4 separate regions of the Homo sapiens genome follow, and all the other regions are reported to be linked to region 2. The links are microRNA targets in miRTarBase. Many come from high-throughput screens and were not tested one by one. Region 2 holds a microRNA gene; each other region holds the end of a gene's coding sequence.
What was found. Region 2 holds the annotated microRNA hsa-miR-4422 (AAAAGCAUCAGGAAGUACCCA, at 2,125-2,145, opposite strand). A microRNA usually pairs through its seed, bases 2 to 8, with sites in the 3' UTR of a target mRNA and lowers its output. Matches are read on the target gene's strand: a 7mer-m8 pairs with bases 2 to 8, a 7mer-A1 pairs with bases 2 to 7 and ends in A, and an 8mer does both.

Region 1: the mRNA of SPCS3 is a reported target of hsa-miR-4422. Seed matches in the 3' UTR shown: 7mer-m8 at 1,478-1,484 and 7mer-A1 at 2,954-2,960.
Region 3: miRTarBase lists PRIM1 as a target of hsa-miR-4422. The part of its 3' UTR that is shown has no 7-base or 8-base seed match.
Region 4: the mRNA of SEH1L is a reported target of hsa-miR-4422. Seed matches in the 3' UTR shown: 7mer-m8 at 531-537 and 8mer at 812-819.

Annotation. Positions count from the first base shown.
Region 1 is chr4:176,327,734-176,330,733 of GRCh38, forward strand. It overlaps SPCS3 (signal peptidase complex subunit 3), which reads left to right. Exons shown (of 5, transcript NM_021928.4): 5 at 465-3,000. The coding sequence ends at 597. Among named protein-coding and RNA genes, the nearest start is that of SPCS3-AS1, 8.7 kb to the left of the region's middle.
Region 2 is chr1:55,224,572-55,227,800 of GRCh38, reverse strand. It overlaps MIR4422 (microRNA 4422), which reads right to left and starts at 2,160; the gene lies at 2,078-2,160. All of the region lies in intron 1 of MIR4422HG (MIR4422 host gene), which reads right to left.
Region 3 is chr12:56,729,074-56,732,319 of GRCh38, forward strand. It overlaps PRIM1 (DNA primase subunit 1), which reads right to left. Exons shown (of 13, transcript NM_000946.3): 13 at 2,507-2,661. The coding sequence ends at 2,642. Among named protein-coding and RNA genes, the nearest start is that of NACA, 5.4 kb to the left of the region's middle.
Region 4 is chr18:12,986,571-12,989,816 of GRCh38, forward strand. It overlaps SEH1L (SEH1 like nucleoporin), which reads left to right. Exons shown (of 9, transcript NM_001013437.2): 9 at 292-961. The coding sequence ends at 487. Among named protein-coding and RNA genes, the nearest start is that of CEP192, 3.2 kb to the right of the region's middle. RefSeq lists an enhancer at 3,111-3,246.

The DNA of each region.
Region 1 (3,000 bases), not on the chromosome of region 2:
CTAGTGGTAAACATTGGAAATAATTTTAGAAGAAAGCTATTTCGACCAAGCCAAACGTCTGTATTTGCAATGAAAATTTCAGAACATGAGAATTTTGTTAAGGTTTGTCCATCTAGATAATTGACAGAGTTAGGCTTCAAATCATTGCTCTGATTCTTAGCTCGTCTCTTTTTACATTTACTGTTTTAATCATTTAAACTTTTCGGTTGATGGTTCTAACTGCAGCTGTGAGTTTAGATGGGTCATCCTGGGATATCAGTAAATGTAGTGCCCCTGTCTTCTAGCATTGTCCTTGGATTTTAAGTGACATGAGAAAATAGTTCTTTTTGCAGATTAACATATTAGGATTTCTGTTAGGAATAGATGGTTATAAATAAAGTATTTGACATCTCAGTGTTTGTCTTAAAATTTTTTTTGAACTACTAGTGTCTCTGATGACTTGTGTTTATTATATCTTTTTATAGGGGAAACAGGAATGTCACTTTGACCCTGTCTTGGAACGTCGTACCAAATGCTGGAATTCTACCTCTTGTGACAGGATCAGGACACGTATCTGTCCCATTTCCAGATACATATGAAATAACGAAGAGTTATTAAATTATTCTGAATTTGAAACAACATATTTTTATACTTAATGAATTGTATCTCATTAATCTCTTCCCTTACATCTTCATGTATTGTTGGTTTGTTTTTTGGTTTTGGGTTTTTTTTTTTTTTTTTTTGGTATAAGAACTAACATCAAAAGGCCTGTTTAAAGGGAAAGGTTAATGGGCTACTTAATATTATGAACAAAACAAAAAAACAAGGCTGCCACAGTGGAATATTATCTTACAAGAATAAGAACTACATAAAACAGATTTGTAAAAAATACATATTTGAAGTATTCCCTGTATTTCCATTATTCTTTATGGAATATAAAGTAAGCATGAAAGGTAGTTAAAACTTTCAGGTGCCTGTAGAGTCATAATAACTGTATTTTATGCCTTGCATTCACGCAAATTCACATTGGATGTGATTTAAAAGTAGACATTCTCTTTTTCCTCTTTTAGGATATGTTTGATTACTGGAAAATTAATATGGTTATTTGTTAGAAGTCTGGTTTATAAAAAAGCCAAAAGTGATGGAATTTATTCCATTTGTCTTAGGAAGGCCCATAATACTTGTTTTTCTTACATGTGACTAGCAACTTTCTCCACTTAAAGACTAAATACCTCTTTATATGATGTAAATTATTCTAATTCATTTTAAAATCTTTTAGGTCAGCAAAATGTGTGTCTTCAGTGCTTTCTCTAAAAACGTTCCTTTATAGCTTTGTACTTTTTTTTTTAGCGTTGCCATTGAAAGTTAAAATGTTTGCATGGTTTACCCTCTGAGTTATGTTTCTTCTAGTGAGCATGCCTGCTGTCACTAAGTGAATTATTTACTACTTTTTGTAGGTCTATATTTTAATAATTATTGGGATAATAATAATTGTGGTATGCTTTCCATTTACAAACCACTCATATACTTTAGTGTATGTCATCCTCAATAATCTAATGAGGTAAGTAGTATAAGTGTTAGCTCTTTGCAGATAAGAAACTGAAACCCAGAAGTTTATTGAATTGCTTCATTGTTACCTAGCCAGCAAGGAGTGGAATTAAAACTTGAACTCAGATCTTCTAATTTTCTGAGCTCATCCTTTCTCTTATACCTCAGATTGCAGACTAATCAAATTTTACTTAAAACCTTCCTGATATTTTTGTTACCCTGGACACCCTTTCTATTCTAGAAAAGGTTTCCCATTTTATATGGAAGTGACTAATTTTCAAGCTGCCAACAACTTATATCGAGGTAATATTTTATTCTCTGAATAAATTCATTTCACTTATATTAAAAGCATAAGGAAATCTACATGTATGTAAAAATAACTTAGAAATTCAGTACATAATACATGATTGAATACATGATCGTATTTAACATGTTTTTTTTTTCTGCAGTGGACAAATAAACATCCTCAAAGTAGCAACTGCAAATCAGTTACCCTTAGAAAAGCAAGACCAAACACTGTAGTTACACTATTAGCAGTGACCAAAAAGGGCTAATATTTTCTAAGAATAGTTTAAATTACAGACATTTGTTATATTTACCTTATGTGAAATACATCACTATTTAATTACATTAATTTTAACATCTGTTGTGTGGAGTTGTATAGTTCATGCAAAAGCCTGTGGGTATGGGTTTTTCAAACCAGCAGAAAGGTCAAAGGTACCTGAATGCTAAACTGCCTGGCTCCCAGCTTTTTCATTAAACTTTTCAGGGTCTTGGTTTCTTTATCTGTAAAATGACAGAGTTGGACCAGTTAACTTTAATGGCCATCCTTTTACACCACACAAGTTGATAAAATTTATCTGTTCAGCAAAGAGATTGAACAAAAAAGCACGTTAGTAATATGAAGACAGGAAAACGAATGAAAGTCTAACACATAACTCATATTGATTTACTTTATTTCTGTTAGATTTTACACTCTGAAAATTTCACCTCATTTAGTTTGTACAAATACTAGACATGGAAACTTAAAATGTGCAGGTGTCAAAGCTTAAAAATCAGGTGTGTCCTCTTTAAAGGCATGTGCGATAAGCCTGCAGTCTTAACCAGACCTGGTACCAGTTTAACAGTTCATGATACTTCTGTGATGAGTGGATCTGTTAGTCTGGTAGAGATTAATGTTGAAATTTACTTGAATTACAGTTATTTGACAAGCCCACTTTTTTTGGAGTTTGGTGAGGAAGATAAGTAAAAATGCCCAACTAGTACAATGTGGAGAAAGTTTTCTGTTTGCTTGACTAAGGGAAATTGCTCAGAAAAAGAATGCTCCAACATGGGAATAAGGACCTTCAGTCTCAGGAACTCATTTTTGGGTGCAGTTTCTACATTTAAAAAATTGACTTGTGTTCAGTTTGATAACCAGTTCATTTGCTTTAGTCTCAGTGTTTTAAAGAAGTCTCATAATGTTCTACAAAG
Region 2 (3,229 bases):
CCTCGACCAAGTGGGATTTACTCCAGGAATGCAAGGTTGGTTTAATATCTGAAAATCAATTAATGCAACACATCATATCAACAGAATTCTTTTAATGACATGATTATCTCAATAGATGAAGAAAAAGCATTTGGAGACAAAGATCCAATACCTTTCATGATAAAAAAATAATAATAAGGAAAAAAAGAACAAAAGAGACCTCTCTCAACTTGATACAGGCATCCATGAAAAACCCACAGCTAACATCATTCTCAATGGTGAAAGACCGGGTATTTTCCCCATAAGATCAGTAGCAAGACATGGATGGCTGCTCTTACCACCTCCATTCTACACTCTACTGGAGGTTCTAGTCAGGGCAATTAGGCAAGAAAAATAAATAAAAGACAACCAGATTGGAAAGATATATTATCTTATATATCATTAATATACAAGATAACAACATGATCTTGCGTATTAAAAATCCTAAGGAATTCACAAAAACTATTATAAATAATAAACAAATTCAGCAAGGTTGCAGGTTACAAAATCAATACATAAAATTCAATTGTATGTTTATACACTTGCAATGAACAATTCAAAAGTGAAATTAAGAGAACAATTCCATTTATAATAGCACCAAAAGGTAAAATATTTAGAAACAAATGTCCTGAAGAAGGACAAGACTTGACCGGGTGTGGTGGCTCATGCCTGTAATCCCAGCACTTTGGGAGGCCAAGGAGGGTAAATCACTTGAGGTCAGGAGTTCGAGACCAGCCTGACCAACACGGTGAAACCCCGCCTCTACTAAAAAAAAAAAAAAAAAATACAAACACCGGGCACAGTGGCTCACACCTGTAATCCTAGTATTTTGGGAGGCTGAGGCGGGCGGATGACCTGAAGTTGGGAGTTCGAGACCAGCCTGAACAATATGGAGAAACCCCACCTCTACTAAAAATACAAAATTAGCCAGGCGTGGTGGCAGGCACCTGTAATCCCAGCTACTCAGGAGGCTAAAGCAGGAGAATCACTTGAACCCTGGAGGCAGAGGTCACAGTGAGCCAAGATCACACCATTGCACTCCAGCCTGGGCAACAAGAGCAAAACTCCATCTCAAAAAAAAAAAAAGTCAGATACTTAATACTTATTACTAAGTATTAGAGAAGATGTGTAGAAATCAAAACCCTCATACACAGCTGGTGGGAATATAAAATTGGAAAACAATTTGGCAGTTCCTCAAAAAATTAAATATAGAATTAACATTTGACCCGCAATCCAAGTCCTAGGTTTATGTCCAAGAGAAATGAAAACATATATCTACACAAAAACTTTTACTTAAATGTTTATAGCATCATTCATAATACCCAAAAGTTGGAAACAACTCAAATGTCCATCATGAATAGATAAACAAAATATCCATATAATGGAATACTATTCAGCCATAAAATGGAATGATGTACTAATGCATGCTACAACATGAATAAATCTTGTAAAGGTATGCTAAGTGAAAGAAGCAGACTCAAAAGATCACATAAGATTCCATTTATATGAATTTTCTAGAGTAGGCAAATCTATAGAGACCAAAAGTAGATTAGTGGTTGCTTATCTCTGGGGGCGTTGGGGGAAACAGGGAAATGGGAGAGTGATAGCTAAAGGCTACAGAGTTTCCTTTTAGGTGATGAAAATGTTCTGAAATTGCCAACAGTGATAGTTGCACATATCTGTGAATGCATTGAAAACTAGAATCGTACATTTTAAATGGGTAAATTGTATGGTATGTAAATTATACATCTCAAGAAAGCTGTTACCAAAAAAAGTCAATACTCAATTAGAGTATTCAAGGTATGAACATTGATGACAATTTTCTGGTTGCCTTTTTTTTTTTTTTTTTTTTTTTTAGAAAAAACAAACATATAGTATATAATGGATATAGATTTGTATCCATCAAAATCCAGTACATTAAATATCATTTTACTTTGCTTTTTCTGAAACTAATTAAAACTCACCTGAACCTTCATTTGCCAAAATATCGAGACATTGAATTACAGTTTTAATTAGGGCTCCCCCACTTACCTTCCAGGAGGATTTATTCAGGTTGCAGGGCTCCTCTGCAATCAAGAGCATCAAGAAGGGCCCACTGGTACATGGTGGGTACTTCCTGATGCTTTTGTCTGCAGAAGAACTGGTTAACTGGTTAATACTGGTTAACAGTGAAAGGACAACAGTCTAAGCTTGCATAGGCTAAAGTACTTTGAGGAAAGGTGGTTCTGGGGCTCCTCTGCCCTGCCCTGCTAGAGACTGAGGGATTTTCTGAGACTAGAAGTCCTGGGACCCAACCAGTCACTTCTCTTTGAGCTCTTTCTACTCCCCTGGCCACTGTGAGCCAGCAATACAGATCAGCTTGCTTAAGACCATCCCTCCTACTGAGAACAACTAGAAAAGCTGGGAAGAATACAGGAAATACCAGTTTGAAGGCACTGGAAAGTTTCTAAGAAAACGTGAACTCAAAGGACCAATCCCAAAGAGAAAGGAAGTACAGAGAGGTGAACCCATCATTTGGTATTGCTTTTCCTTTAATGTTTTTGCTGATTCCTAATCAGCAACTGAGAAGCCCAAAAGCTGAAGAGAGCTTACAGGGCTGAGATGACAAGAATTGGAGATCAGGAGCCATTAAAGAGGAGGTACTCTGGTAAGCACCATAGGATTTCATTTGATATGGTAATATGTTACATAGCTGGCTGCTAGTGAACCAAACCTTCCAGGATTTATGCCTATGGGTGGTCCTCTTCACATTGGTTTCGGGCTTAGCCATATAATTTGTTTTCTTTTGTTTGTGTCTTGAGAGATGGGGGTCTGGCTACATTGCCCAGGCTGGAGTGCAGTATTCACAGGTGTGATCATAGCACACTCCCTCCTCAATCTCCTGGCCTCAAGCAACCCTCCTGTCTCAGCCTCCTGAGTAGGTGAGAGTACAGGTGTACACCACTGCATCTGGCTTATGTGATTTGTTTTTATCAATAGTACATTAGTAAAGGTGAAACAAACAAAGATTAAATATGAACTTGCTCACTGGGACTTGTACTTTTGGATTTCTCCCTGTTAGAATCTAGCCTCCATGCTTAAGTCAAGGTTATCCCAGTGGAGAAATAGGCCATGTGGAGAGGCCCTCGGGGATGGAATATTGTATAGAGATGCCATGTGAAAACTTACTAAAATGCCCCAGCCAAGTGCCCAGCTGAATGCAGCTTTACGA
Region 3 (3,246 bases), not on the chromosome of region 2:
GTGAAACCCCATCTCTACTAAAAATACAAAAAATTAGCTGGGCATGATGGCACGCACCTGTAATCCCAGCTACTCACGAGGCTGAGACAGGAGAATGGCGCGAACCTGGGAGGTGGAGTTTGTAGTGAGCCGAGATGGCGCCACTGCACTCTAGCCTGGGCCACAGAGTGAGACTCCGTCTCAAAAAAAAAAAAAAAAAAAAAAGTCTCTTTTTAAAAGCATACCAGTCTTTCCACTCTCCTTCTGAGTTCTTTACTGATTAGTTCTGGAATAATGAGTCTCTAGTAATTTTGTATTCAGGAGTTTTAATCGACCCACTGTTTCTAGAACCTGAAGACTTAATAACCTATAGTACACATAAGCTCAAATAATGAAGAGTTTTTGGGCCAGGTGAGGTGGCTCACACCTGGGAGGCCAAGGCAGGTGGATTGCCCAAGCTCAGGAGTTCGACACCAGCCTGGGCAACATGGTGAAAACCTGTCTCTACTAAAAATACAAAAAATCAGCTGGGCGTGGCGGCGTGCACCTGCAGTCCCAGCTACTCGGGAAGCTGAGGCAGGAGAATCGCTTGAACCTGGGAGGTGGAGGTTGCAGGGAGGCGGATTGCTCCACTGCACTCCAGCCTAGATGACAGAGTGAGACTCTGGCTCAAAAACAAACAAATAAACAAACGAAAAAACCAAACAACGAGGAATTTTCCTTTTTTTGAGACGGAGTTTCACTCTTATTGCCCAGGCTGGAGTGCAATGGTGCAATCTCGGCTCACTGCAACCTCTGCCTCCCGGGTTCAAGTGGCTGGGATTATAGGCGTGCATCACCAGGTCTGTATTTTTAGTAGAGACAGAGTTTCACCATGCTGGTCAGGCTGGTCTGAAATTCCTGACCTCAAGTGATCTACCTGCCTCGGCCTCCCAAAGTGCTGGGATTATAGGTGTGAGCCACTGCACCCAGCAGGAATTTTCTTAAAATATAGGTCAAGGAATCAATGTGTTGACTGCATTATAGAGTCTGTTTCATATAAACCAGAAGATAAGAAAAGATTGATTGTAGAGGAAACAATGTTAAAGGAAATGCAAAGGAAGGAAAATTTTCATTGTCATTAAAAGCACCAGCCTGACAGCTTGCTTCTCAATGTTTCTCGGAAGACAGAATATAAACTAGAATGACTGTTTTGTTTAGATTAGTTGTAAAACAGGGCAAGAGAAATCGGACATATTAGAACCCATCTCACAAAATCAAACTTTAAAAACTGAAGTACCTAGATACATAAAAAGTCCCAAGTATTTTCACAAGTTTAATACGTTTTATTTATTTTATAATTTTTATTTATGTTGCCCAGGATGGAGTGCAGTGGCGTGATCTCAGCTCACTGTAACCTCCACCTCATGGGTTCAGGTGATTCTCTTGCCTCAGCCTTCTTAGTAGCTGGGATTACAGGTGCCCGCCACCACACCTGGCTAATTTTCTTGTATTTTTAGTGGAGACCGGGTTTCACCATGTTGGCCAGGCTGGCCTTGAACTCCTGGCCTCAGTCGGGTGTGGTGGCTCACACCTGTAATCCCAGCACTTTGGGAGGCTGAGACAGGCAGATCACAAGGTCAGGAGATCGAGACCATCCTGGCTAACATAGTGAAACCCCGTCTCTACTAAAAATACAAAAAAAATTAGCTGGGCGTGGTGGCGGGCACCTGTAGTCTCAGCTATTTGGGAGGCTGAGGCAGGAGAATGGCATGAGCCTGGCAGGCAGAGCTTGCAGTGAGCTAAGATCGTGCCACTGCACTCCAGCCTGGGTGACAGAGCAAGACTCTGTCTCAAAAAAAAAAAAAAAAAAAAAAGAACTCCTGGCCTCAGGTGATCTGCCTGTCTTGGCCTCCCAAAGTGTTGGGATTACAGGTATGAGCCACTGTGCCTGGCCCTCTAGATATAATTAAATGTCTAAAACTTAAGGACAAAACCATCATTCACCCAAACATATGACGTATCAAGTGAGCTGAGATGACAGTCCTATTACTGCTCACTTACCTCTATATATGGCAACTAGTAGAACTGGGTATTTATATCAGAAGCCTTAGAATTATCCTTGTAGAATATTGAATTTTACAAAATTATCTGCAATCCACTTATGCCTCCTTTTATTTCTCCTTCCAGGAACCTTGACACTCTCCTTGGTCGTCTCAGGAAATCTTACTTTTTTTTTTGTTTTGTTTCTTTTTTGAGATGGAGTCTCGCTCTGTCGCCCAGTGGCTGTGATCTCAGCTCACTGCAACCTCTGCCTCCTGGGTTCAAGCAATTCTCCTGCCTCAGCCTCCCAAGTAGCTAGGATTACTGTATGCACCACCACACCCGACTGATTTTTGTAGTTTTAGTAGAGACGGGGGTTTCACCATGTTGGCCAGGCTAGTCTCGAACTACTGACCTCAGGTGATCCGCCTGCCTCGGCCTCCCAAAGTGCTGGGATTACGGGTGTGAGCCACTGCACTTGGCCAGGAAATCTTTTCAACATAAATTATTTCTCAAGGAAAATTTACTTTGAGGTTTAAGACACATATATAGTTCTGCCATATTTATTAAATGGCTCTTGAAGTATTTGATCTGTGGTTGAAGGCAGAAGATATCCACAATGGTTTGAGGAGCTCTGTCTTCAGAAATCTTTTTGTAAATCTAAAATAGAATAGATAATATATGGAAGAACAGCAAAGGAAACAAAACAAAGCCCATTTACTTTTACATTCTTTTTTGCCTAATGCTTCTATTTAACACACATCATGCACAAAGATTTGCTTACACATTTGCTGAAGTCCACATCATAGGCTGAGCTAGTATGGAACAGTGAGGATACAAAGGACTTAATACGGCCAGTTGCAATGGCAGCTTCAACCAGGCTTTCCAAGCTCAGAGTTGTTGTTCATCCAATAATCACACATATGAGTGTCTACTGAGTAGAGCATTATCTTAGGCACTACTGCTTAAACTATCACATATTTAAATAAAAAATGAAGTGGCAAGATAATTTGTATTGCTATAACATTGTCACAGTTTTCTAGAGTAGCCTTCATCTCTTGAATAATATTCAATCTGCTGATTTTTTTCATATTGGCTTATACATATGCTCATATGTCTCCCATTTAGAGTACCCTTCATTTGACACTGCTATCCTCTTTGTGTTTCTTTCCAGTTATTATATGCAGCAGGATTTTATTAGTTTCCTACTGTACCTGACACTTGATAATCTTGCACTTTTCTTTC
Region 4 (3,246 bases), not on the chromosome of region 2:
TTTTCTTTGTAACATTTATATATATTTTTTAACATTTTAAGTTTAACAGATTGTATTCCTTTCAAGTTTCTATACTTGCTTAAGCAATCTTGATTTGAGTAAGGGTCTTGATTTGTGCTATTATGTTCTGTTAGTTTTGGCATGAATATACTAAAGCTTTTTTTTTTTTTTCTAGCATGTGTTTTCTCCTCTTTGGTTCTCTTTGTATTTACTACTTTTCTCTTTTTCTTGTGTTTTTTTTTTCCTGTTTTTGTTTTGTTTGGTGTTTTGTTCCTGTCTTCATTGTTTCAGGTATTTCTTTACCCCTCTGGATTCCCCACGGGCTGGATCGAGATGGTCCAGTTATGCCCAGCTCCTTCCTCCTCCTCCTCCTCCTCTGGTAGAGCACTCTTGCGATGCTGACACTGCCAACCTCCAGTATCCTCACCCTCGCAGACGATATCTCTCTCGGCCTCTTAATCCCTTACCTGAGAATGAAGGGATTTAAAACACTGATTTAACATTGAAAGGCCTTATTCAAGTGCTTGTAAATGCTTTCATTTCTGGCTGCTTTTTGTTTTTCATTTTCTTTCAGAAGATTTTTCTAACTTAGGGTCTGTCTTGCATGTATTACAACCAGAATACAGTGTTTGGAACCTAAATCTGTTTGTGCGTCTGCATCAAAGGAACATTTGCTTCACTGGGTGATAACCTTTGATGAAATGAGATATGTCCAAGTAACGTTAACTGTGAAGTTACACACAGTAGCTGACTTCAAAGTGCCTGTTCTGTAAATTTTATTTTAAACTGTTACCATAGTCTTAAGTTGTTTATGCTTTATCAGACTGGCTAATGTGAAAGCATAATATTATGAAGTTTATTCTGCCTTATGAGACCTTAAAAAATGGATTTCATTTTACAGGCTAATGTTGTAACTGACTAGTATGTAAAATAAATCATTCCTGTGTATAAAGCAGCAAAACCTAATGTGGACTTTTTGGTCTTTTTTTTTTTTTTTTTTTTTTAAAGGAAATTGCCTTTCACTACTTGGAATTACTGTTTAAAGCTTTTGTAATTATTATCCAAGTAGGTTATGTAATAAAATATATTTAAAAATATACGAATCTCTTGCCTTATAAAAACAGAATGTATTTTATTTAAGATAATTGCCAAGGCTTACTCTTCTTTCACTATCTCACAAAAAACCCAAACAAAAATTAGGAGATGTGAGCAAATATTACATTTATTTAAAAGGTAGAAAGTCAGTATGTAGACTACTAACATTTAGAATGGACAGATGTTGACTTTCAGTCTAATTAGTCAACATTAGAATATTTTCTAGAATATTTTAAAATGAGAATGTACTTGATTATAATTGTGGTAAAATGATTAAAACTAGTAATATGCTTGTTGGTTCAGTTTTGTCAGGAATTGTCAAGGGTTTAACCTCTTATCAGGGCTAGAGAGAGAGGTGTTTTGAACAGTATTTCATGTAACAGATTACATGAAATATCAGGTAATCACATAGGTGACATAGTTATTATAACTATTCTAATTTTCAAAGACGCCTTTCCTTGAATAGTGTCATAGCTCTAGTACTTCTTAATATGCAAAGGATTAAGAGCTGATAGAAAGATTCTGTTCATTTTATTTTATTTTTTATTTTTTAAGACAGTGTCTCACCCTGTTGCCCAGGCTAGAGTGTAGTGGCATGATCATGGCTCACTGCAGCCTTGAACTTCCGGGCTCAAGCGATCCCCCCACCTCAGTCTCTTGAGTAGCTGGGACTGCTGGTGCACGCCACCATGCCCTGGCTATTTTTTTAAAATTTTTTTTTAGTGAGGGGTCTCACTTTTTGCCCAGGCTGGTCTCAAACTCCTAGGCTCAATCCATCATCCCACCTTGGCCTCCCAAAGTGCTGGGATTACAGGCATGAGTCACCTCACCTAGCCTATTCATTTTAGTTTAAGGAACATTTGAGTTTTATTGTCTAATAATCAAAGTGTTTTGTCTCTAAAGTTAGCATTTCAATGTAAATATCTTTTTCAAATAATTCTCAAAGGTCTTCCTCTGGTTAAATGACTTGCTAGGCTTGTAGCCTTATGGAGGATCAAACAAGAAGTCTTAATGCTGAATCTAACCCAGAATTAAGAAGCCATGTCTTTGAGCTTTCAGACATAGAGGTACCTTGGGTAAGAATGGAATAATGAAATTGAGACCATTCTCCAGTTTAATTTAGTGAATCCTGAGCATCTACCATGTGCAAGATACTGTGCCAAACACTGGGGTATGTAGAAAAATAGGTAGTCTGCACACAAACTTACACTCGTGGGAGAAGGCATTTTTAGAATTTACAAAAGGTAATGGGTTCAGCTTTGTAATAATGGTAGAAATTGTATAGTAGGCATAAAAGAGACAAGTTATTTGAGCTGGCAGAATTTGGAAGGGATGTCTGATTTCAATAGGTAAAAGAGGGCCGGGGTGTGTTTACGGAATAGGATATAAGTAACAGTCTGATGAAAGAGTAGGGTTCATTTAGGGAACTACTGGGACATTAACCTGAAATCATACCTTGTGGTTACATTGTAGAAGGTTTTGAGTATTGGCTGAGGCATACCACTTTAAGCAGTTGGTAAAAGGGGAGCTGAGAGATGTCTGAACTTAAAACTGGATAGGCCTCACTTCTAATTCCCTGGGAGGCACCCTGGTCATGGGGCCTCTGCAGGCTCTACTCAGTGTCTAAAGAGATTTGGAAATCACAGTGGGAGTTCTGTTCCTCCTTTCCAGTTGGCAAGTGAGGTGAGATACTGAGGTATAAGATAATAGCTAATGTTTGTTGAGTATTTCCATGGGCCATTATTTTTCTAGATACCTTACAGAAGTAGCTTTAAATCCTCACAGTAAGCCTCTGAGGCAAGCGCTTTAATTATCCCCACTTTACAGACAAGGAAACCGGCTGGTTAAAGCTACTTGCCCAAGGCTACACAGTTTGGAAGAGGGAGGTAGAGCCAGGATTCAGATCCAGGCAGCCTGGCGTCAGAGTCCAGGCTCTCCTGCTGCCGAGACTCTGAATCAGAGATCTCTGTTAATAGAGTCCTATCAGGTTACTGAGTGTTGTGGGGAGTGCTGTGGTGACTTGAGGATATTTATGGAGGAAGGACATTTATTAACAAGGATCTGGTGTGAGTGACAGTCCGGAACCTGTAGACACATTTAAGCAGTTCACCTCCAATGTGTGACCGCTTTGTAGAAAAAGAGGTTAAGAGA